Regions from separate parts of the Homo sapiens genome. Here regions 2, 3 and 4 are each linked to region 1. The links come from fine-mapping of genetic effects on gene expression. A gene starts in region 1. Each other region holds a variant in brackets. All regions are shown on one strand. Distances are from middle to middle. Region 1 holds the start of TTYH2 (tweety family member 2). Region 2 overlaps TTYH2 (tweety family member 2). Region 3 holds the start of DNAI2 (dynein axonemal intermediate chain 2). Region 4 overlaps TTYH2 (tweety family member 2).

Region 1 (5,907 bases):
TGCATGGGTTGGGGTGGCCACCAGGTGGTGCTGTGCCACAGCGGGCAGCCCCTCTGGAAATGACTGGCATCATAAAATCTGTCTTCATACCCGAGGTAGTGTTTTTTGTTTTTTTAAGATCTCTACCTTTTAAAAGCGTGGCATACAGTGTGCTTGGTATTGTGTTAGGCATTTAGACGTGCTCAGGTTGTAAGGTTGAAGTGCCAGTCTTTGAATATTCTGTAAGGATTGTGAGGGTGTGAGGTGGTTTTGAGTCTGGTCACGGGTCTTGTTTCCTCCGGGAGAGGGTGGGTACACCAGCCCTCAGGCCCAGGTGCGGCACTGTGGGCGGCTTTCAGCCTTTCCCGTTCTGTAAGCATTGCAGATTCCCAAGGAAAAGCGAGCCTTTACCATGTGGGTTTTCTTTGTTCCCAGCACATCGTCCAGAGTTTCATCCCAGCTCCTAGGAGACAGGCCTTGCAGGGGTGTGTCCAGCCTTGTCTAGAGAAGGCCGCCTTTCATGCAGTGCTTCCCAGCCCTGGCTTGTGACTCAGTCATCTGGGGCACTTAGGCAGTTCACTGTGGTGGCCAGGGCTGACTGGAGATTGCGATTGCGGTGGTCTGGGGCATAGGTGTGTTTCCAAGCTCTCAGGTGGGCCTCTGCTTTGCTGGGGCTTCAGCAAGCCCTTAAGTGCTGCATACCAGGTGAATGGGGAGGGGGGAGGTGATGGGCTACAGCTGCTGGTGTGCCGACTGTCCTCCAACTCCCTGCTGAGTCTGTGGGAGGTCTGTCTGTTGTGCTTCAGCTTTTTGACACCTCTCTGGGTCAGCAGGCCTCCGGGGAAGCAGCTAGAATGGTCGCTGTCTGGCTGGGTGCAGGTGGGCTGACAGGTTTGGATATTCCAGGCCGCATTCCGGTGGCTGTGGAGATAGCCCTGAGGGACAGCCTTTGCAGTTTGTTTCTTCCAGTGCCGTGTGCAGGCCTCCAGCCTTCTGGGGCTCCCTTGCCCCGGGTTCAAAGTCAGTCCTCGGTGACCACCCACTGCCTAGGAGGCAGGCCCTTCCCACCTGGGGGGCCTCTGAGGGCAGGGGCTGTAAAAGCAGCTACCAGAAGAGTCCACTTTCCCCAGCAACTGCAGGGACTGAGTCAGAGACCAAGACCTTTTAAAAGGAGGTTTTCACCCAAAGAAGTTCCCTCCCCTGCCGCAGTCTCCAAGCTGATCGCCTGGCTCCTGCAGTTCTCCGGCTCCCTGTCCTGTTCTGGAACTTGCTTGCTTCCCCTTCCACTGGCCTTAGTCCCTGATCTCACAGGGTCCTGTTCCTTCTGCACAGAGGCCTCCCCCAGCACCCCCCTCTTTGACTCCCGATCATCCTTCAGCTCATGTCACTGTCCTTTGGGAAACAACCCTGACGCCCACCTTCCATCCCCTCTCCCTACAGCAGGGACTCTGACATTTCACAAGGCCTGCAATCGCTGTTTGCAGGATACAAGTCCACCTCACCTCGCCTACTAGGCTGTAGACGCCATGCAGGCGGGAACGTGTGTTTTATCCATTACTGTATCCTCTAGAACAGAGAACGTGCTCAAGAAAATTTGTTGAAAGACACCCCAATGAGAGAAGAATGGCTGTTTCCAGCCTTCCGGGCCCCTCAGCTTTGGGCTCCTGCAGGGCCCCAGAACCGTGGGATCACGGCCACGAGGAGAGGCCCCGAGGCCAGGACTTCCTCTAATGGACACAGGGCCTTTGAGCACCGGGTGACTGGGGCCCCACTCCCCAGCAGCCATATGTGTTTGCGAGCGTTTTCAGTCGGTCCGCATCCACCCGGTCCCTTCAGCCAGAACCCTAGGAGCCCCGCCCCGTCCTCCCGGGGCTCCTTTCTCACCCGCGTCCCTGCCGCGGTGGATACGCACCCCTCAGGCTGGCTGCCCAGCGCGGTTTCCACGCCCAATCTGCCGCGACCCCATCACTCCACCGCACCTACCCCTGACTCCTGCTTGTCCTGCAGCCTGGGCTCCTCCCTCCGCTGGCCAAGTCACGCCAAGCAGTTTGCGGTTACAGGACGGGTGGGGGCCTCTGCATATGTGCAGAGTACGGAGGGCCCAGGGACGCGAGGCTCCCCGATGGGCAACCTCCCCTGCCTTTGCTTTTCCCCAGAGCCCCCTCCTGGCCTGCGTTCGGCATCTTCTCGGGTCGTCATCGCCCTCTGCGGTGCCTGCGCTCGGGGTGAGGGTTTTTGTCGGCTTTTGTTACATCACCGATGTAACAGTGCCTGGACGTAGTAGGTGCTCAATAAATATGTTGTTGAATGCGCTTCAGTCTCCCCGAATGCTTGTCCCTTCCGGGCGCTCTCATCGCTCTCCTACCTTCCCCGCTACACAGCTCGAAGGTCCCCTCCTCCGGGAAGCTCACCCTGTCCCACTTGCCAGGAAGAATCAAGCAAATTTTCTGAGTGAGACACCTTGTCCTCACTCAGGCGTCCTGCAGGCGGCTTCAGCGAGTTGTTGGGGCAGATGCGCCGGGAGCTCCCGAGGGCAGGGACGGCGTCTTATTTCTCTTTTTAAGTCCACAGGGCTTGCACAATAGATGCCCAAAAAATGAGAGTGAATTTAGAATGAGTGACCGAGTGGCTGAAGATTGCCTCCTTCCTTTCCCAGTCTGTCGGTTACTTACCCTGTGACAAGCCCTTGGGACGGGCAGTCGCCCCTCTCTGGCCTATGACTGCTGGCTGCCCCCACTGACACCTTATACCCTTGATCTGATCATAAATAAGAAGCAGCCCGGGGACCTCGAGACTGAAACTGATTTAGAGACTTCTGGGAGCTTTTTTCACTTCCCTCCTCCCATCCGGCCAGGACAGATCCCCGCCCAGAAAGGGGCTGTTGACTGCAGCGGGCTGCGCGCCCAGAACTGGGACTGGGATCGCGGCGGGGCGGGGCGGGCGCGGGCCCAGGGAGAGGCGGGGCCGGGGGCGGGGCGGGCACGGGGCCCCGGCCGGGAGGTGAGCGCAGCTGTCGTTCAGCTTGTGGGTAGCACTCGGGCCGAGCCATGCAGGCGGCGCGCGTGGACTACATCGCTCCCTGGTGGGTCGTGTGGCTGCACAGCGTCCCGCACGTCGGCCTGCGCCTGCAGCCCGTGAACAGCACCTTCAGCCCCGGCGACGAGAGTTACCAGGAGGTAAGTTTACGCCGCCCCAGACCGCAGCCACGCGCGCCCCAAGTCCCCGCACTACCCCCTCTCCCCTCGAGAGCCTGCACTTTCCCACGTGCCTCTCAGACCCCTTCTCTCCCCGCGCAGCCCTTTCCCGTCTCCCCTCTCCCCTTTTCCCCCACCCTCCCAGGCCCGTGGCCCGCGTCCCCTCCTGTCTGGGAACCTGGGGGCCGGGAAAACTGAAGAGATCAGAGTGAAGCGAGCGTGGGGAAGGGGAGGAAGGGCGCAAGACCGCCTGCGGGGTGAGGGGCTGAACGCTGAGCGGGCAGGGCGGCGCGGGGGAGGGGTAAGGACAGGGGCATTCGTCTCGGGGTAATCCTGGCGCGCGAGGTGCGGGGATGCTGAGGGGTGCCCCGAAGTTTTCGACCGTCTGAGATTCCAAGATGGGGCGCTCTCTTTCCGGGGCTGAGTGGCCTAGGAAAGTTTGGCAGAAACTGAGTAGAGTCTCCCGAGTCGGTCTTCGCAGCACCCCTCCTCCCCAGCCCCGGCCTGCAGGGTGGGAGTCTCAGCTGGAAGGCTGCAGGGCTTGGGGAAGCGGTGTGGGTCACTTCCCCTCTAGCGCAGAGAACCCACAGCTGCTTGCGCTTGTTCCAGGGAAGGAAGGTGGCCTCCGTCAGCCCATCTCACACTGTTGTCCTGAGGACCCCCTTGCATTGACAGTCAGCTTCTCTGTGTCCCCTGGTCCTAGACTGGCCCATTCCTGTTCCCCCACGCCCCTCTCTCTACCTCACACCTTTAAGCCCTGAATTTCTGGCCTAGGGCAGTCACTCCCGGCTTCCCCGCCCTTTCCCTACTCTGCTGACCCTTGGCAGGATTCTGCACCCCACAAACAGGGCCAGGGCTCCCCAGACCTCCCTGCCCAGACAAACAAAGCTGCAGAATCTCCCAGCCCGTCTCAGGTCTGGTCACGCCTGCTCTGGCCCCGGGAGCCCACCTGTATCAGTTCCTTGTGTTGGGTCAAAGATTCTGGGGCCAGTGGACCAGGATGAGGTCCATTTATTCAGAGCCAGGCGCCCATCTCAGGACTTTGGCCCCCGGCGGCCTCTCCCTGTGTCAAGTTCTCCAGATATGGGACAGATCAGGGCAAAGCAGGGCCTCTTGGAGGGAATCCTGATCCAGTGTGAGGTGCCCAAGCGCCAGTGACAGGGAGTCTAATAATAACCCCTGACGACCCGGCTGCCATCAGGCCCAGGCAGATGGTGCCTGCCCTACCAGAGGGAGGGGAGCATCAGGACCCCTTCCTGGGGTTCAGTGGGCACTCAGGAGCAAGACGGCAGTCGGTGGACCCACCCCCCTCCCCCAGAGCCCAGCCTGTGGGAGTCTGTGTTCCCTGAGAATGTGGCTGCCTGGGGATAGCTCCAGGGAATCTTCCTCTCCCAGAGAATGCATGAAAAGAGGCGGATATGATTTCAGAAACAGCCGTGTGTGTGTGTGTGTGTGTGTGTGTGTGTGTGTCCCCATCCCAAACCCTGTGCCCCACATCCCACACCCGGGGTCTCCAGCCATAGTTTTCTCCTCTCCACTGGAGGAAATCTAAACTTTTCATTGGGTCAAGAAGACCCCTAGGTGGGGGTAGGGATGGTAAGGGGACTCCCTCACCCTGATGGCCCCAGAGACAGTTCCTATCAGCCCAACAGCTGTGGCTGGTGGATCCTGGGCCTGCCCACAGCCCCCTCAGTCCCATGGGCAGGTGGCAGTTGAGCCAGATGAACCTACCTCCAGCCTCTGCCCCTCCTCCCAGGATTCTGGCCCCGGCTCACTTTGTGCTGGGCATCAAATGGTTCCAGAGGGTGTCCCTTCCCATCGGCCACTGCTCCTGGGCAGCTGACACCAGCCCTGCCCACTGGCTCCTGGTCCCGCTCACCCCCTCACCACCACTCAGATCGCTGAGTAGGAGATGAGCGTGGTGGGCCAGGACCGGAAGTCTGGCTCTGGGTGTTATTTAAGGTGGCTCCTGTTTTTGGTAAGTTCCCCTGTTGTGACCACAGGTCTCTCCTGGATGTCTTCTTTCCTCCTGAGCACCAGTCACTAACAGAGTCAGGTGGACCGTCGGTCATCCCAGTCTTCAGCAAGCTTGACTGGAGCAAGTGCTATGCCAGGCGTGGGGTGACCGTGGTAACCAAGGCAGCAGGTCTTCAGGAGAAATTGCTGGGGATTTTCTGCGGCTGGGCTCTGGGCGCAGTGCTATGGCAGACACCAAGCAGTTTGAGGTGGGGCTCTGCCCTCCAGTTGGCTGGGGTGGATTCCCAGTTCTTTCCATGTGTGACCACGGGTAGGTGTCTTAACCTCTCTGAGCCTTGTTCCCTTCATCTGCAAGAATTAGATGAGATATTCCACATATCATGCCTAGTACAGAGAGTCCCATAGCACATAACAGGAGCCAGTGACACAGATCATTCAATGGAGTGGCTGAGAGGTTCAGGAGTGTGTCTCAGGACAGTACCCTGCTGGGGAATGGAGAGGAAGGAGATCTCTTCCACAGACTCTGATTGGGGGAGACTGAACAAAACGCCTGCAGAAAGGGCTTCAGCTCATGCCCCACATGTTCAAATGCACAGTGCTGGCTGTGTGGGGTGTGGGGGGTGGGTGCGTGTGCATCAGAGACTAAGCAAGGATGGAAACAGGCAGGTGCTGGCCTTAGGATGTGGGTGGTGCGGGGGATCTCAAAGGCAAGGGGGTTCTTGGAAGTGCAGAGATGGTGAAGAGCAGGTCACCTGGT
Region 2 (5,907 bases), 39 kb after region 1:
CTAGAAAGTGCCTCCCTTGGGAGCTCAGGGACGGGGAGGGAGGTCTGGCTTGGCCACCAAGGATGATAGAGATCTCATCTGGTCATTTGTGAGCTGCCTAACGTTATGCCGTTGCCCTGCAGAGGTGACTCGCTACTACCTGTATTGCAGCCAGAGTGGAAGCAGCCCCTTCCAGCAGGTATGGCCCCCCGAGGCCTGCCCTCACCCTGCCCACAGCCGCTCCCCCTTGACCCTAAGCCTCACCACTGACCAAGATGGCGGAGGTGGCAGGGCCTTGCTTGCCTCACTGTGGTCCTCTCCTTAGCTGCTTCTGTGAGGGGGGCGTGCTTTTGGTCGTGGGTTCTAGATTGGTGGTTAACACATATGCAGCTCAATGCGGGAGCTAGTTCCCATGCAGATGCTGTCCAGGAGCTCTGGGGTGGGGCCGAGATTCTGTACTACTCACAAGCTCCCAGGTGAGGCCAGGGCTGCTGGTCCAAAGACCACATCTGAGCTGCAAGCAGGGAGAAGACTGTGCAGCTCTCAAGAAGCCAGAGGAGTAGGGGGAGACTTCCTGCAAGTGGAGGGGCCTGTGCAGCTGCAGCCAGGTGGGGGGGTGGGAGGGGCAGGAGCATAGGCCCCTCAGCCACTGTGGGGCTCCTGGGAGACGGAGCCTCACTGTGGGGCTCCTGGGAGACGGAGCCTCACTGTGGGGCTGTGTCTTTCCTGGCTCAGACCCTGACCACCTTCCAGCGCGCACTTACCACCATGCAGATCCAGGTCGCGGGGCTGCTGCAGTTTGCCGTGCCCCTCTTCTCCACTGCAGAGGTAAGGCAGCTGTGCAGGAAGAGGGGAGCCCCAGATGAACCCTGACAGCCCTTTCCCCTGCCCCGGCCCCAGGGCCAGGCTGTGCACAGCTTGCTGCTGGCTCTCTGTTCTCCCGCCCCCGTGACTCGGCTCCCTCCCTTGGCTCTAGAGGCCCCTGAGCACAGCTGCTGTGGTGGTTTTCTCCGCCAGCTCTCCTCCACAGCCCCTCGGCCTCTCTCGCTCTCTTCCCGCTTCAGGAAGACCTGCTTGCAATCCAGCTCCTGCTGAACTCCTCAGAGTCCAGCCTTCACCAGCTGACCGCCATGGTGGACTGCCGAGGGCTGCACAAGGTGCATGGGGACCCTGGGGTCACGTGGAGAGTGTGAGGGCACCCAGCAGGCCACACCTTCCAGAGAAAAGCCGGTAGAGGCCGAGGGGAGCGATGGCCTGGGTCCCCTTCCGGCCCAGGAATGGAACTGAAGCCAGATAATGGGAAGGGAGGGGGTGCCTGGCTTCTCCAGGGGCTGAGACAGGGAGACTCAGTACAAGGGACCAGGGGTTCGGGATGGGAGGGTTGGATGCGGTTGGCTCTGGGTCACTGGGGGACCCTGAACAATGCAAGGGAGGCTGTTCCCCATTGTCCAGACTCCTAGCCATTTCCTCAACACATCTGTCTCCCTGGGTTGCAAGTGGATGTCCCAATCCCATTGCCAGAGTCTTCTTTCCAGGAACTTGGAATATCAGACAGACACAATGATGCAGGGAACACATGGGGAGCACGTGAGAGCCCCCCACCCAAAAGCAGTGAGCCAGTGTATGGCGACAGCTTTCACATCCCAGATGGATTTAGTGCAGACAGTCTTTGTCATCATCACAGCTGTCAGCTCCATGCTTGGCCCTGTTCTGTGCATTTTATATCCAGTATGTCATTCAGTTCTCACAGTTATACTGTGAACCACACGTTATTTCCTAGGAAATTGACTTGCTTGTGCGTGTGTATGGATAGATCCATAGATACAGCTATGTGTGTGTGCACGTGCGTGTGTCTGTGTGTGTGTGCGTGTGTGTGCACTTGTGGTGTATATGTCTGTGCGTGTGTGGTGTGTTTCTGCGGTTGTGTGGGTGCACATATGTGATGTGTGTATGTATGTGTGTGGTATGTGCATGCTTGTGCGCATGTGTGCTGTGCATGCGTGTGTGTGGTGCATGTGTATGTGCCTGTATGTGTGTGTGGGGTGTGTGGTGTGTGCGTGTGTGTGGTGTGTGCATGTCTGTGATGTGTGTGGTGTGTGTGCATGTGTGTTGTGTGCACATGTGTGCACATGTATGTGGTGTGTGTGGTGCATGTGTGTGTGCATGTGGGGGGTGCATGTGTGTGGGGGGTGTGTGTGCGTGTATTTATAAAGTGGCTTACTGAAGAGTCCCGAGTTGGCACATCAGGGGCTTGGGTTTAGATCCTGGTAGTCTGACCTCAGAGCTAAGAACATGGCAGTCACCCCTGTCTCCTCTCTTCTTCCCCTTCTACATCTAATCCCCAGCAAGTCTTGGCAGCTCTCCTCTCAGCTGTACCCTGAATCCATCCATTTCTCTTTCTCTCCATGGCTTCCACCACGATCCGGTCCTGCCCCTCCAGCAGACAGTGGCCTCTTCCCACTTTCTCTTGCCCCCTCACCACCCATGAGCTTTCACACATGCAACCAGAGCAGTCCTTTTGCAGACTAGGTTGGATCACATCCCTTCCACTCCCACACCCTCCAATGTCTTTCTGACTCCTTTTAAAAGTCCGTACTCCTCTCCCGCATTGCAAGGCCCAGCACGACCCAGCCCCTGCTGGCCTATGTTCTCTCTCTTTCCTGAACAGGCCAAGCCTGTCCCCTTTGCCCCCTCTTCTCAAGGTGTGCTGCTTCTTGCCATCCTGGCCTCAGCTTCAGTGCCCCCGTCTCTGGTTCCCCACCCTGCAACCTCCTCCGCCCTGTTCAGAGCCAGCTTCTTAGTGCCCAGCTCACAGTAAGTGCTCAGCAAATGTTTCCAGCGTGAACCCAAGAAGCCCCATTGTGTTAGGCTCCAGAGTGTGGACCTTTAATGGTGCTGCAAGGCGCTCGGGATGGGGAGCAGCCAGGAGACCCCAGGTCCAGGCTCGGGGGAGAGGGACTTCCAGAGGAGAGCTCGGCCCGCAGGCTTTGCCCCCGCTCCTTCACTAGCTGCATGTCCCTCCTCTTCCTCCAGGATTATCTGGACGCTCTTGCTGGCATCTGCTACGACGGCCTCCAGGGCTTGCTGTACCTTGGCCTCTTCTCCTTCCTGGCCGCCCTCGCCTTCTCCACCATGATCTGTGCAGGGCCAAGGGCCTGGAAGCACTTCACCACCAGGTGGGCTGCCTAGTAAGGAGGGGAGCCTCCCACAGCCTGGAGTTCTGGGAGAGCAGCAGACAGGGGCCTCTGCTCTACGATTTAGCTGATAACCCAGGACTGAGGAGGGCAGCAGAG[G/A]GCCCGGGCATTCAGCCCAACAGGCTGGCTGACTTCTACAGAAGCTTCCCCAAGAGTCCACACAGACCCTCCAAAGGAGTTCGGTGGGGCCCAGAGCAAGAGCTGGGGCCCAGGGTGGTGACAGCCCTCAGGCCACAGTCTGGCCTCCCTTCTCCTCTCTTCTCACCAGGACTTTGCGATCTGGAATGAGGAGAGTTCTTGGTGCTGGGAGGGGTGCCCCAGGAATAGCAAGAAGGATACATGGGGTCACTGTTTTCAGGGAGCCTGCAGTCCCCTTGAGGAGATGGGCAGGGACACATGGTGTACAGGCACCTGGTGAGCGGATTAGGCAAGAGGACGCAGGGTAGTGGGGACCCACATGCGCATGGTCAGCGTGGTGGGGAGCCTGGAAGAGCTGGTCGTGAAGCTGGGAATGGGCCAGAATGATCTGCAGGAGGCAGGCTGGGGACCGCGTTTTAGAGGAGTCTCAAGGAGACACGCGTGGCCAGAGAGTCCTGGGAGGAAAGGCAGGGAAGTAGGACAGGACCTGGCTGCCTCGGAGCCTCCTTCACCCTTCACAGCCGGCCATCTTCTACCCATTGTTCTAGAAACAGAGACTACGATGACATTGATGATGATGACCCCTTTAACCCCCAAGCCTGGCGCATGGCGGCTCACAGTCCCCCGAGGGGACAGCTTCACAGCTTCTGCAGCTACAGCAGTGGCCTGGGAAGTCAGACCAGCCTGCAGCCCCCGGCCCAGACCATCTCCAACGCCCCTGTCTCCGAGTACATGTACGGCCTGCACACACACCCAGGCTGGGTAGCACTGCCCGGACAGCATGTTGGGTGGGGTCCACAGTGCCGGGTGTGGGGAGGAAGGCATCCAAGGCCACCCGTGGTCCCCACTACAGCCACAGGGTGCCTGGAGGGAAGGCCCCCGGGGAGCATCTAGTCACCCCTCCACACCCACATGTGCTGGGGGAAGAAACCACTGATGTCAGCAGCCTCTGCCACAAGCTGGTGGGACAGGTCTCAGGCCCAAAAAGCTGCATTTCTCCAGGCCATGCTGCTCCCAGCCTCCGTTGCCCATCAGCCACTTGTCCCCAGGCTTCCCAAGGTGCTCTTCTCCATATCTGCCCACTGCACCCCCTCCACTCTATCTGTGGTTTGGTTCCATCCCCCACCTCCCATGTGCTCACCCATGGGACCCTCCTGTAGAAATCTACACACACCCCCACTCCCACACCATCCCCTCCTGAGCTCTCCTCTCATCCCCGCAGGAACCAAGCCATGCTCTTTGGTAGGAACCCACGCTACGAGAACGTGCCACTAATCGGGAGAGCCTCCCCTCCGCCTACGGTAATTGGGGCTCTGGCCCTTCCTTGTTGGGGTAATACATAAAGACAAAACCTCCTGCCAACCCAGTGAATCCTGTCCACAAAGGCAGAAAAGAATGAAACTGTTCTGTTATTGAATATGCACTAAACCAGACCGTCGTGGGTATCCCAGGCAGTCCGCTAAGGAGATTGCAAAGATGCAAGAAATCTCACTCCTTCCCCTAGCCAGGCAGGAACAAGACACAGCCCACTGCATACCTGTCATCCAGCAAGAGGACTTGACGGCACTGTTTGTCACAGTAGTCCACCTTAATCCACTTGCTAATTGGGGTGGCCATCCTGGTTAAGTAATTGCCTTTATTTATTTATTTATTTATTTTTTGAGGCAGAATCTCACTCTATTGCCCAGGCTGGGGTGCAGTGGCGCAATATCGGCTTACTGCAACCCAGGTTTCAAGCAATTATCCTGCCTCAGCCTCCCAAGTAGGTGGGACTACAGGTGCGTGCCACAACGCCAGGCTAATTTTTGTATTTTTAGTAGAGATGGGGTTTCTCCATGATGGCCAGGCTGGTCTCAAACTTCTGACCTCAGGTGATCCACCCGCCTCGGCCTCCCAAAGTGCTGGGATTACAGGCATGAGCCACCGCGCCCGGCCAGCTAATTGCCTTTATCCAGAGGAAAAATAAAACTCCTATTTCCGTGACAATCAGATAGCTACAACTTGGAGCCAGGCCCCTAAGTGAACTGTCACTGAGAAGGAGATGAGGTGCTGTCTTCCTGATGTTTGTACTTCCAAGAGATGGCTCCCAGACCTGAAAAAACCATACCTGGATTGTAACACTGGCAAGGGCCATATTCAGCCTTTAAGAAGGTTTGCAGACATCTCAAAAGACAGAAATTATTTACAATGATAAGTTTTCTAAAGGAAATACTGCAAGAAGAGAGGGGGTCTCTTTCCCTTTTTGCTCCAGAGAAAATTAAGGAATTTTTTTTCTTTTTAGATTTCTGTTTACCTTAATCCTTGGTCTCTTTTGGGCTGGACGGTGGGTTGGCTGTGGTGGCGGGTCTGGGAGGGCTGAACCCAAACACAGCCTTCCTCAATCCGTCTCAGCTCCCCATGTCCCTAGGACTGTGCCCAAGTAGGGCCAGTGCCTCTTGTCCACCCCACCACCTCCAGCCAGAGTACCTGAGATACAGCCTCAGGGGAGTAGCTCAGGGTGGGCAGGTTGAGAAGGAAAGACTATGCTGTCTCATCCCAGAGAAGTATCCAAAGGACACAGAAATACTGGCTGAGACAAAGAAAGCTGTAAACAGAC
Region 3 (5,907 bases), 61 kb after region 1:
GCCCTGGAGGTTGAGGCTGCAGTGAGCCATGATTACACCACTGTACCCCAGCCTGGGCGACAGAGCGAGACCAAAAAACAATGTGAATGAACTTAATACCACTGAACTATACACTGAAAAATGGTTAAGATGGTAAATTTTATGTGTAGTTCACCACGCACACAAAAATTGGGACTAAAGGGGGACACAGCAGTGGAACGGGTTGTGGCAATGCCTGGGGATGTCCAGGGCCAGGGGCGGCTCTCAGCAAAGAATTTCTGCTGCCAATTATGCTGTGATTGGGTGAAGATCTGAGAGGCACCGCAATTGTTTTCAAACTAGGTCCTTGTGAATACTTCTAATTATATGACCTCACGCCGAGGCAGCCGGCCAAGGGGTAACTGTTTGGCCAGTGAACAGAGCTGCCCTCTGTGGTCGGTGGCCTGCAGCCTTCTGGGTGAGGGTGGGGGTGGGGAGCCTGTACTAAATTGTTGGATAATATGGTAAAGGTGGCTGCAGTTTCCTTTCAACTTTTCCTATTTCCCCTTCTAACCCACTTTCCCACCCACAAAATAATGTGTCTTCAGAGAGCCCTCGGCTTCCCAGGGCTGGAGGTGGAGTGGAAAGGGTTGCATTATGATTGCAACCCCAGCCAGCCACTACCTCATCATGGAGTGGATCGTTTCCTATTCTTGGAGACTTTGGGTCTGATTCACCTCTGACCACACAAAGCCATTTCAATGCGTCTTTCAGGAGCTCCTCCACCCAGCCCCTGTCAGGACCCTCAGCACCCACCCCTAAGAGTTCTTTGTCCCGAGAAACTGGTGCGAGCCAGAACGGATCAGGAGAGATTGGTGGCAGCAGTCATTTAGGTGCTTGTCTTTGGTTAGTGCGGCCCTGCAAGGTGCCGTCTCATTGGGAATTTCCTTGCACCTGCCCCACTAAAGGCAGGTGGGTAGTGGTGACAACACATATATGGAGAAGTTGGGAAGTGGGAGAGAAACGTTTGCTTCCTTCCTGTCCTTTCACAGATCCCAAACCCGCTGAGGGCTTCCCATGGAAAGCTGTCTGGGCCCCTCAGCCTGCCTCTCTTGGGACCCCCCACAGACTGGCCCTGGCTGACCTTTGCAAATTCCTCTCTCATTTTTCCCCTGCAGGGACTCTCAACCCCAGCCAGACTGATCCACCCACCATCCTCGCAAAATGCCTTTCTTCCATGACGACTGCCCCTTCCTTCCTTGCTCACGCCATGCCCTCCCCCAATCTGGAACGCCCTCCCCACTCCTCTTCCCTGCAACTCATAACCATTTTTCAAGGCCCAGTTCCAACCCCAATCCCACTTCTTGGATGACGCACTCCTCTTCTGTCCCAGTCCAAATTTCCGATGTCAGCATCTGAACTCGGGATAACCTCATTCCCCGAGCTGCCACTCATTCAGGCACCAGTAGCTCTGGACGGGGGCTGGACACGCCCCTGTGTTGTCTCTCACTTAATCCTCCCCATTATCTAATAAGCACCGCCACTGTCCTGCCACTTTGCAGATGAGGATAGCTGAGTCTTAGAAAAGGAAAGGAACTTGCCCAGGGCCATGAGATTAGTAGGTAGCCAATCTGGGATTCAAATTCATTTTTTTCTAGCCCCAAATTCCCTTGTTTTAATTTACATGATCGCAATTGCCTTAACTCCCTGAGAAACATGACTCGTTTCATTCATTCAACCATTCATTCAATGAACACAGTACATTTCGTGCCAATCACCCAGCTAAGCTGTAAAAATCCCCAGCTTTGCCGGGCGCGGTGGCTCACGCCTGTAATCCCAGCACTTTGGGAGGCCGAGGCAGGCGGATCACAAGGTCAGGAGATCGAGACCATCCTGGCTAACACGGAGAAACCCCGTCTCTACTAAAAATACAAAAAATTAGCCGGGCGTAGTGGCGGGCACCTGTAGTCCCAGCTACTCGGGAGGCTGAGGCAGGAGAATGGTGTGAACTCGGGAGGCGGAGCTTGCAGTGAGCCGAGATCGCGCCACTGCACTCTAGCCTGGGCGACAGAGCGAGACTCCGTCTCAAAAAAAAAAAAATTCCCCAGCTTCTACTCCCAAGGAGTTTCCATTCTGGTGGTGCGGGAAGATGTCTTTATTACAGAAAGTGGAGGAAGGATGGTAGCAGAGGGGAGGGCAGAGTTATAATTCCCACTGAATGGATGCGGAAACTGAAGGAAGGCAGGACAACACAGTCGGCCAAGATGGTAAGCAGAGCCCGCCATCACCACCCAGGGATCAGGGCTTCCCAAGCACTGACTATTCTTCCTTGCATTTTCTGGGTGCCTTGCTCGATGCAAATGCATACAAACGTAGGCTTGGATAAGCGCCTTGGCAACGCCCCTACAAATATTCATGATCATTATTAGTATGTTACCAACCTATTGGTTAATTCTTCTCCTAACTCAGGAGACCTCCAAAAAGAAGAGGGATGGCCTGCGCTTCCGACGTGGCAGGAAAGGAGTCACGTGCTCCGGGGTCCTTCCGCGTCGCCCCGCGCGTCCGGAGCCAGGCCGGGGTTGCCAAGCAACCGGTAAACGCCGCCGTTTGAGGAGCACCGGAGCCGCGACCGTGGATTGAACGCTTCCCCAGAGACCCAGAAGCAGAAGGAGCGGACCCAGGGTAAGGGGCGGGCGCCAGGAGGACGTCGGAGGCTAAAGACTAGAGTGGAGAGTGACAGGGAGAGACTTACAGGGTAATAACCACCAAGAGTGCCAAACATTCCTCTTGGGGGGCTTCCTTCTGGGATAGCTCTGCCAGATGGTGGCTGCCAGGACTAGCGCTCCTAGTGCCCTCTTCCCCTTAGTCCTCGCTGCCCTGGATCCGCCCCAAGTCGCAGGACCCTGCAGCCTCTGTACACCCTGCCTCATACCCTCCTACCCACTCAGGTCCTGATACAGTCCTTGTCCTGGAGTGGACTGGAGACCTCTGAAGGATTTACAGCTGAATGGATGGAAAAAAAAGAAGAAAAACAGCCTCCGGCTAGGGTGATGGGAAGATGGGCCCTTTAAGAGGAGAGCTTTCTGCTCAGGATAGAGGGATGTAAATTAACAGTATTGCACACCTGCTAGGTGGCAGGTGTTTTAAGTGCTTTCTTTCATTTCTTCCTCAACCTGGGAGCTGGCGTTCTCGTGTGATCGAGGTCATACAGTTGGTGAGTTCCTCCGGAGCGTGTGCAGTTCCTCCTTCCTGCTCAAGGTCAAGGTTTACCACATTCTCTTGAACCACAGAAGTGCGTCTTCTCCCAGCTTTCAGACCCTATGTG[T/C]TTTCCTCTCGAATCCTTGGTTTCAAATCCTTTGCTTGTTTGTCACGGTCAGCAGAGGAGGAACAGGGGAGAGAGCTGTAGAGAGAAGCCTGGTAGGCGCTGGTATCACAGTCACTAACGCAGCAGGTGACAGGAGTCTTGGGCCCCTTCTATGTGCCAGTCCCTGGGGACGGGAGTGAATAAAAGACCACAGTCTTTCCGTCAAGGAGACCACAAGGTAGTTGTGAGGGCAGGTAGTCACTGACCCCCATCGGTCTCCAATTCTGGGGACCTCTTCCCAACTCGTCCTGCCCTCAACCTTCACTTTCCTTGGGGGGCTCAGCCATGCTTAGTGCTATCCTGGGGGAAAATAAATGGGGGCTTTCTAGGGAGGTCTGCCTCTTTTGAGGGTAGAGTGAGTCCCTCAGGACCCCGGAATTCCAGAAGGTGCACAAGGACATAAGAAAGAGAAAGAAAGCTGGGTGCGGTTTTCACACCTGTAATCCCAGTGCTTTGAGAGGCCCAGGAGGATGGATCACTTGAGGTCAGGAGTTTGAGACCAGCCTGCCCAACATGGTGAAACCCCATCTTTACTAAAAATACAAAAATTCTGGCCGGGTGCAGTGGCTCACGCCTGTAGTCCCAGCTACTCGGCAGGTGGAGGCAGAAGAATTGCTTAAACCTGGGAGGTGGAGGTTGCAGTGAGCTGAGATCAGGCCACTGCACTCCAGCCTAGGTGACAGACTGAGACTCCGTCTCAAAAAAAAAAAAAATTAGCCGAGTGTGGTGGCATGCACCAGTAGTCTCAGCTACTCAGGAGACTGAGGCACAAGAATCGCTTGAACTTGGGAGGCAGAGGTTGGAGTGAGCCAATATCACACCACTGCACTCCAGCCTGGGTGACAGAGCAACACTGTCCCAAAAGCAACAACAACAAAGAAAGAGGGAAGGAAGTCCTCTCCTGCCAGGTGCCATGCAGGGCCCACCACTCGCAGGAACCCAGTAGGGGCTGTACCAGGGACCAAGAAGAAGAGGAAAATGTTCTCATCTCCTTATTCCACTAGGGAGTTCAATGTGGAGGGCTGACCTTCCAGCTTGCCTCCTTCCCAGTCTCCCACGCTGACACTCCTCCTCCCCATCACTCCCTTGGCCTTCCTCCCAGCTTGGAAAACACACTTTCCCTTAAGCCACCGGAGGTTCTCTCCAGGAATTACTTTGCTCATTCTCACTGCACAAGACGAGTTTTGTTTTTATAGTGAGTGAAGGTTCCCATCTGACTGCCTCCCCGGGGATGCGGGAGACGCCTGAATCTTTGATGTCTGGACCACAGCGTCCCTGATTCTGCGTGTTCCTGTGTTTGAGACTCACAGTGGTGTTCTTCACGCCTCTGGGACTCTAGGTTCCCACGGGGGGAGGATCTCCCCCCAAAACTCCAGAGGGCAGTGACACTGCTCCCGTCCCCGCTCTGTCACCCCATGCAGACACTCCTGCTCAGGCCTTGCTTGGGGAAGCCCACCCTCTAGCACTAGTCTCACAAGAGGTTGGGGGAGACCTCCTGAGACGCCCTTTGCTGACCTTGCTATTCATCTGTGTGCCCTGCTAGCTTGTGAGAAGAGCTTGCTCTGGGTCCTTGAATGGGTTGTCTTCCCGTCACCAGGCCAGTCTTTAAATGTCCCCTCTGTCTGCCTCCAGACACAAGACAATGCCTCTGTTCTCACTCGGGGCTTGGCCTTGGGAAACACCAAGAAGGAAAGCAAAGCTGTTAAAAATCTGATCTGGGCTAAAGAGGCTATTTCTGTCTTCCTGGAGTTTCCTCATTCTCTTCAATCTCCTTGTGTCCCCTAGGAGCCAGCTGGCTTGCAGCAATTTCTTTTAAAAGTCAGAGACAGGCAGCCCTAATTGCCTGAGTCCTGCAGCCCCATGTGGGAGGCACAGTTGCTTCACACTGTGTTGGCAAAGGGGAGGATGCCACGGGATTTGCATGCTTTTTCACAAGGCCGTAGCTTTGTCCATGTGGTAAAAACACACTGGGGCACCCCGCTACAATCTGGGCTTCTCATCCCACCCTGTGCCCTCTAAGCCATTGCTCCCACCCAGGAAAGAGAATTTCCAAACTACAAGAAAGAGAAGAAAACAAGGCTGGGTGCGGTGGCTCATGCCTGTAATCCCAGCACTTTGGGAGGCCGAGGTGGGCGGATCACTTGAGATCAGGAGTTCAAGAACAGCCTGGCCAACATGCTGAAACCCTGTCTCTACTAAAAATACAAAAATTAGCCGCGAATGGTGGCATGTGCCTGTAATCCCAGCTACGGGAGGCTGAGGCAGGAGAATCGCTTGCACCCGGGAGACGGAGTTTGCAATGAGCCTAGATCTTGCCACTGCACTCCAGCCTGGACGACAGAGCGAGAATCCATCTCAAAAAAAAAAAAAAAAAGAAAAAAGAAAAAAAGAAAGAAAATGCCACTTTCTGCAACAGTCTGGTTAAGGTTGAGTTGCTCTGGGGCTAGGAGTGGGATGGGGTGGTACTGTCTTCAAGACACAATGTATATGGATGCAAAGGGTTAACCTTCCTACCCTCCTTCTCCCCACCTGCTGCCCCAGCTGCTCCAGGGCCCAAGTTCCCCCTGGCACATGCTTCTAGGGGC
Region 4 (5,907 bases), 24 kb after region 1:
GAACTGCTCTTTCCTCTAGACCGTGGTCTCCGCCACCTGTAGCTCGTCCCTAAGTCTGCCCAGCCTGGAAAACTGACCTGTCCCTCCTGTTCTCAGAGCTTTCCGTGAGAGAGAGCCTGATTCCATCTCTGGGTCATCCCACCTGTCCCTGCGGGGAGTATTATGTCCTGAAACTTTAAGGAATTGGGGATGGTATAGAGAAGTGGGGAGTTGTAAGTAGGTCACTGCTGTCATTCTTATTTTTTAAAATTTTAGGATCTTTTGAGCCTAGGAGTTCAAGAACAGCCTGGGCAGCATAGCGAGACCCCATCTCAAAAAAACAATTTTTTAGTTTTGTTTCCTGTGGGAAAATATCAGGAAGAAAGAGAAGGCATGACAAATACAAATACTGCCTTCTTTTTTTTTCCCCCTAAGGAGGAGTTTAAGAAATAGAGAAGTTAACTGTGAGAGAGTAGAACTGTGAGGGAGAAAACAAGTGGCCTCACAGAAAAAGTTTACAGATAATTTTTTAACAGCCCTTTACTCTGAAGTTTGTTTGATTTATAGAAATATAGAAATATAGAAATGTCACCTATTACTGGGTTTGTTCAGAATGGCACTATTCTTTGATGATAGTGCCATTTGTATAAATGTTTCCAAAGTGGTTGTACATTTATCTTATTAAATTGAACAGCCAAGTGTACTAGCATGACATTTAGTTACTGAATGTACTTTTACATGGTTTGGGGTCTTTTCCCCTGTGCTTCGGGCTGTCGAATCTGCACATGGTAGAGTGTCTCCGTACTCTGGTATCTCTTAGTCCTTAACCAACTCGTAAGAACCAAGCATAAGCCAGAAAACGGAACAAGCCGCTGACACTGAAAAAATAAAACAAAATGAAACAAAGAGAGCCATTCTCTTTTCTGGAACTAGGAACTCCCAGCGTAGCGCAGATGTAAAAGGCCACACAGCTGATGTGAAGTCCCCATAACACAGAGAACACCGTTGGCCTCCGAGAGTGGAATCTAATCGGCCTTGCTGATCTCACTGTGGGAAGTTTCTGCCTCTTCTTCTGTGTCGTTTTTATCTCCCAGACCCGTGGGAGCTGAAGGCTGCCGAGTGTGGATTAGTGCACACTGCCCCACTCCCGGCCCGTTGTGCTTCTTGGTTTAGTGTGACAGTTTCAGAACAACAAAGCCCTTTCTCCGCTCGCTGCCAGCAAGGGCGTGCTTGGGGCTGCCAAGCTGCACCCCGGGGTTCTGCAGGCACCCTGGGTCTGGGCTGTGGGAAAGTCCCGCTAACCAGTACGAGCCCTGCCTGTGCTCTTCAAAAGCCAGCTAGGGTTGACCACTTGGACCATTAGAAATGGATGCACATGGCCGGGCGTGGTGGCTCATGCTTGCAATCCCAGCATTTTGGGAGGCCGAGGTGGGTGGATCACTTGAGGCCAGGAGCTCGAGAGACCAGCCTGGCCAACATGGTGAAACTGTCTCCACTAAAAATACAAAAATTAGCCGGGCATGGTGGTGCACACCTGTAGTCCTAGCTACTTGGGAGGGAGGCTGAGGCAGGAGAATCACTTGAACCCGGGAGGCGGAGGTTGCAGTGAGCCAAGATTGCACCACTGCACTCCAGCCTGGGTGACACAGAGCGAGACTCCATCTCAAAAAAAAAAAAAAAACAAAAAAGAGAAAGAAAGAAATGGATGAACGGGCTACTCTGGCACACTGCCTAGAGGGTAGCCCTGCTCTGCAAGGAGCAGTACCTTTAAATATAAATAAATAAATAATGTTTTTAACTGGATGGCCAGCCGTCAACTTTCTATTTCTGTCTTGCATTGGCAGATGTTTCCTTCAGGGTCCACTCAACCCCAGGCCCTTAGGGCTCAGCCAAGGGACAGGAGCCTGTCTGCCCACCCAGCAGGACACACATCCAGGGGAGGATGTGAATACAAGGAGAAGGCGCCGGTTTCCTCCTCCTGCCTCATGTCCAGGCTCCTCAGAGACAGGATCGCAGCTGTTTTTGTTTTTGCAAAGTCCCATTGTCCTGCCTTCACTCAGCGTTCAGGACCCGGTGTGCTGCGGCTAGTGCCACAACAAAGCTTTTCTCTTATAGAACAATTAGAAATCCTATTGTGGGGATACAAGGTCAAGGTAGCAACATAGAGTCTGTTTCTCTAAAAGAGAATTTGTAAGCCAAAGTGCTGAAAGTTTTAAGAGAATCTTCAAAGAATAATGGATTATTTTGTTGGTTTCTCCATCTGGGTGTCTCTGTATATAGTAAGGTATAGTAATGAATGCATACGTTTATTCCAGCCCTTTACAGCAGGGGCCACGTGGTGGGCACACAGGATAGCCTCCTTAGTAGAGAGCAACAGAGGCTCCAGAGGGCAGGGATGTGCCCACACTCCCAGCGCCAGAGGCTAGACCTGGCCTCAGCCTGCAACACATAATGGTGTGCTCCTTTGGCGCCAGCATTCTCTCTCTCGGAGCCCAGATCCTGTTTAAGGCCAGGTCAGGGACTGCCCCCTGGTTTGAGGGACATGAGGACTGGGTGGGTAGTGGCGGCCTCTGTCTTCAGTCCTTCCTCCAGGGGCACAGGCTCGAGATCTTCAGGCCTGGGGCAGCATGGTGTGTTCATTCATGCCTAAGCAGGCCAGGCCAGCTTTTTTTTTTTTTTTTTCGACACAGAGTATCACTCTTGTCGCCCAGGCTGGAGTGCAATGGTGCGATCTTGACTCATTGCAGACTCCGCCTCCCGGGTCCAAGTGATTGTCCTGCCTCAACCTCCCAAGTAGCTAGGACTATAGGTACATGCCACCACACCTGGCTAATTTTTATATATTTTTTTGTAGAGACAGGGTCTCACTGTGTTGCCCAGGCTGGTCTCAAACTCCTGGGTTCAAGCAATCCGCCTGCCTCAGCCTCCCGAAGTGCTGGGATGACAGGCATGAGCGTAATTATCGCACCTGGCCAGGCCACCTTCTGCTGCCTGCAAAGACCTCTTCCGGGATGAGAATCAGAAGCTCTACCTCCATGGCTTTTGCCCCCTGCTCCTCCCTAGGTTTCCGGAACTACCCAGAAGATGAAGGTGGACCTAGAGCAGCACCTGGCCCGGCTCAGTGAGATCTTTGCTGCCCGGGGCGATTACCTGCAGACCCTGAAGTTCATACAGCAGATGGCGGGCAGC[G/A]TTGTTGTTCAGCTCTCAGGACTGCCCGTGTGGAGGGAGGTCACCATGGAGCTGACCAAGCTATCCGACCAGACTGGCTACGTGGAGTACTACAGGTGAAGGACCGGTGGGAGGCAGAGGGAGGGGCAGCAGCGGCTACATCAGCTTTGTTTATCCAAACCTGCATGTTGAGCTCCAGGTGGAGAAGGGCCACTGGAAAGTATTTTTTTTTTGTTTTGTTTTTTTAAGACAGAGTCTTGCTCTGTTGCCCAGGCTGGAGTGAAGTGGCACGATCTCAGCTCACTACAATCTCTACCTCCGGGGTTCAAGAGATTCTCTTGCCTCAGCCTCCCTCCCAAGTAGCTGGGACTACAGGTGTGTGCCGCCACGCCAGACTAATTTTTGTATTTTTAGTAGAGACAGAGTTTCACCATGTTGGCCAGGCTAGTCTCTCGAGCTCCTGGCCTCAAGTGATCCACTGGCCTCAGCCTCCCAAAGTGCTGGGATTACAGGCGTGAGCCACCATGCCCAGCCCACCAGAAAGTCTTGATAAGCCATTGGCCAAAATCAGGAGAACATGGGGGCTTACAGGGGCCACGTGGTGAGCATGCAGGATAGCCTCCTTAATAGATAGGCAGCAGAGGCTACAGAGGACAGGGATGTGCTCACACTCCCCGCGCCAAAGGCTGGACCTGGCCTCAGCCTCCCGCACACGGTGGGGTGCTTCTCTGGGACTAGCATTCTTCGTGGCTGGTGCAGGGTGGAAACGCCACATGCTTCATAGGTTCCTCGCCTGCCAGAGTTCATGGGACAGGATTTCTTGTATCCACAGACACAGCCACAGGGTTATGGGGGGTTGAGGAGATGAGCACCCGGCTAAGGGTGCTAAGAAGTTGCCATCAGGGGAGGCTCTGACCTACAAGTCATTGTGCTCCCAGGGCCTGGGCCTAAGCGTGGAGGAGGCACAAGGGAGGAATGAGGCTGTGTCCCCAGACTCACTTTTTTTTTCTTTCTTTTTAAGACAGTATCTCACTCTGTCACCCAGGCTGGAGTGCAGTGGTGTGATCATGGCTCATTGTAGCCTTGAACTCCTGGGCTCAAGTGATCCTCCCGCCTCAGCCTCCTGAGTAGCTGGGACTACAGGCATACAACCACACCTGGCTAGTTTAAAAAAATTTTTTTTTGCAGCTGGGACTGGTGGCTCACACCTATAATCCCAGCACTTTGGGAGGCCAAGGCAGGCAGATCGCCTGAGGTCGGGAGTCCGAGACCAGCCTGACCAACATGGAGAAACCCTGTCTCTACTAAAAAATACAAAATTAGCTGGGCGTGGTGGCGCATGCCTGTAATCCCAGCTACTTGGGAGGCTGAGGCAGCAGAATTGCTTGAACCCAGGAGGTGGAGGTTGCAGTGAGCCAAGATCATGCCATCACACTCCAGCCTCAGCAACAAGAGGGAAACTCCATCTCAAAAAAAAAAAAAAAATTTTTTTTTAGAAATAGGGGTCTTGCTTTGTTGCCCAGGCTGGTCTCAAACTCCTGGCCTCAAGCAATCCTCCCACCTCAGCCTCCCAAAGTCCAAGGATTACAGACATGAGCCACCATGCCCAGACCAGCCTCACTTATGTAGAACCTGAGTGATGGGGACTGAGGGGCACCACCCTCACTTAGGTGTACAAACTCATGCCCGTGTCATCTGACCTCTGGGGCTTTGTTTACATCTCCCCTGCCTCCCCATTTGCCAAATCCCAGCCTAGCCAGAGGCACTGGACACAATCGGCGGAGCAGGGACCTGCTGCCCCTCTCCAGGTGCAGGGTCCAGCGAAGTTTGCTCCGTGGAAAGCACAGGAAGGAGGCAGCAGCCCCAGCCTTTGGAGGGCTCCCGGCTGAATGATGGCCTGGGCTTGTGCTCCCAGGGCCCGGGCCTAGCATGGAGGAGGCACGTGGGGAGGGGAAGCATGAGTCAGGAGGAGCGAGTGTCAGTTCTTTGGATCCCTCCCCGCACCCTCCATTTGTTGGCTCCTCTTCAAGCCATTGATGAACGTCAGAGCCTTTAGCTCAGGGTTGCACAACTTACTTCTGTTTTCTGGATTTGTGTCCCCTTGTGTCATAAAGCCCCACTCCAGGAGGTCACTGCTGGACTGAGTCCAGGGGCCTCTCCCCTTCCCAAAAATAGGAGGTGGCAGGTCCCTGAGCAGAGGGAGCTCATGAAGTCCCCAGCTCTGGGGGTCCTCCCCACACCTTGCCTCCCCAGCCCGTCCAGTCCCTGCATCTCCGCCATGTCCTGGATGCTCTGGATTGAAGGGACCTTGGCCCCACTCCCCAGCAGATGGATGCTCATGGGCAAAAGAGCCTCCCTCCCAAGGGACAGAAGGAAACTGCCAGCTCTAAGGACTGTCTGTGACCTCCTGTGGCCCCAAAACAGGGGTGTCTGATGATTCTCCTGATGCATGGGCCATTCATTGCCTGAGCCTTCGAAATCTTATGTCAGGCAGGGGCAGGACCCATTTTAACGTCACTCTTCTCTGAGCACACCTAGCAGAGGACTGTGTATGTTTAAGGGCCTCATGTGGGCATTTTGTTAATGACACTGATGGAATTAAGTCAGAATTTACATATCAAAGGCGGCTTATTGTTAAGGCGATGGTATTAAAATAGTGGAAGGATGGTGTCAACTGCACATCAGCTATTTCAGCGTGGGTGATTGACAGGACCCCCTGTGAGTCCATCCCCAACTCCCCACTGCTTATTCGGGTTGAGG

What was found. PIP is the estimated chance that this variant, and not a neighbour inherited with it, causes the effect. A credible set is the group of variants that fine-mapping cannot tell apart.
Region 2: its variant is the best candidate, but not a certain one, in a credible set for the expression of TTYH2 in whole blood (INTERVAL, PIP 0.89).
Region 3: its variant is the best candidate, but not a certain one, in a credible set for the expression of TTYH2 in lung (TOPMed, PIP 0.71).
Region 4: its variant is the best candidate, but not a certain one, in a credible set for the expression of TTYH2 in unexposed skin (GTEx, PIP 0.55).

What each region holds. Positions count from the first base shown.
Region 1 is chr17:74,210,562-74,216,468 of GRCh38, forward strand. TTYH2 (tweety family member 2) reads left to right here and starts at 3,010. Exons shown (of 14, transcript NM_032646.6): 1 at 3,010-3,155. The coding sequence starts at 3,027. MGC16275 (a long non-coding RNA gene) reads right to left here and starts at 2,760. Exons shown (of 2, transcript NR_026914.1): 1 at 1,963-2,760; 2 at 1-1,121. RPL38 (ribosomal protein L38) reads left to right here. Exons shown (of 5, transcript NM_000999.4): 5 at 1-94. RefSeq lists a silencer at 2,887-3,046 and an enhancer at 5,305-5,354.
Region 2 is chr17:74,249,222-74,255,128 of GRCh38, forward strand. It overlaps TTYH2 (tweety family member 2), which reads left to right. Exons shown (of 14, transcript NM_032646.6): 8 at 123-178; 9 at 715-807; 10 at 1,044-1,136; 11 at 3,013-3,155; 12 at 3,860-4,045; 13 at 4,534-4,612. Among named protein-coding and RNA genes, the nearest start is that of DNAI2, 22 kb to the right of the region's middle. The variant G/A (reference allele first, on the strand shown) is at 3,273.
Region 3 is chr17:74,271,706-74,277,612 of GRCh38, forward strand. DNAI2 (dynein axonemal intermediate chain 2) reads left to right here and starts at 2,529. Exons shown (of 14, transcript NM_023036.6): 1 at 2,529-2,640. The variant T/C (reference allele first, on the strand shown) is at 3,284.
Region 4 is chr17:74,234,252-74,240,158 of GRCh38, forward strand. TTYH2 (tweety family member 2) reads left to right here. Exons shown (of 14, transcript NM_032646.6): 4 at 3,043-3,263. Among named protein-coding and RNA genes, the nearest start is that of TTYH2, 24 kb to the left of the region's middle. The variant G/A (reference allele first, on the strand shown) is at 3,169.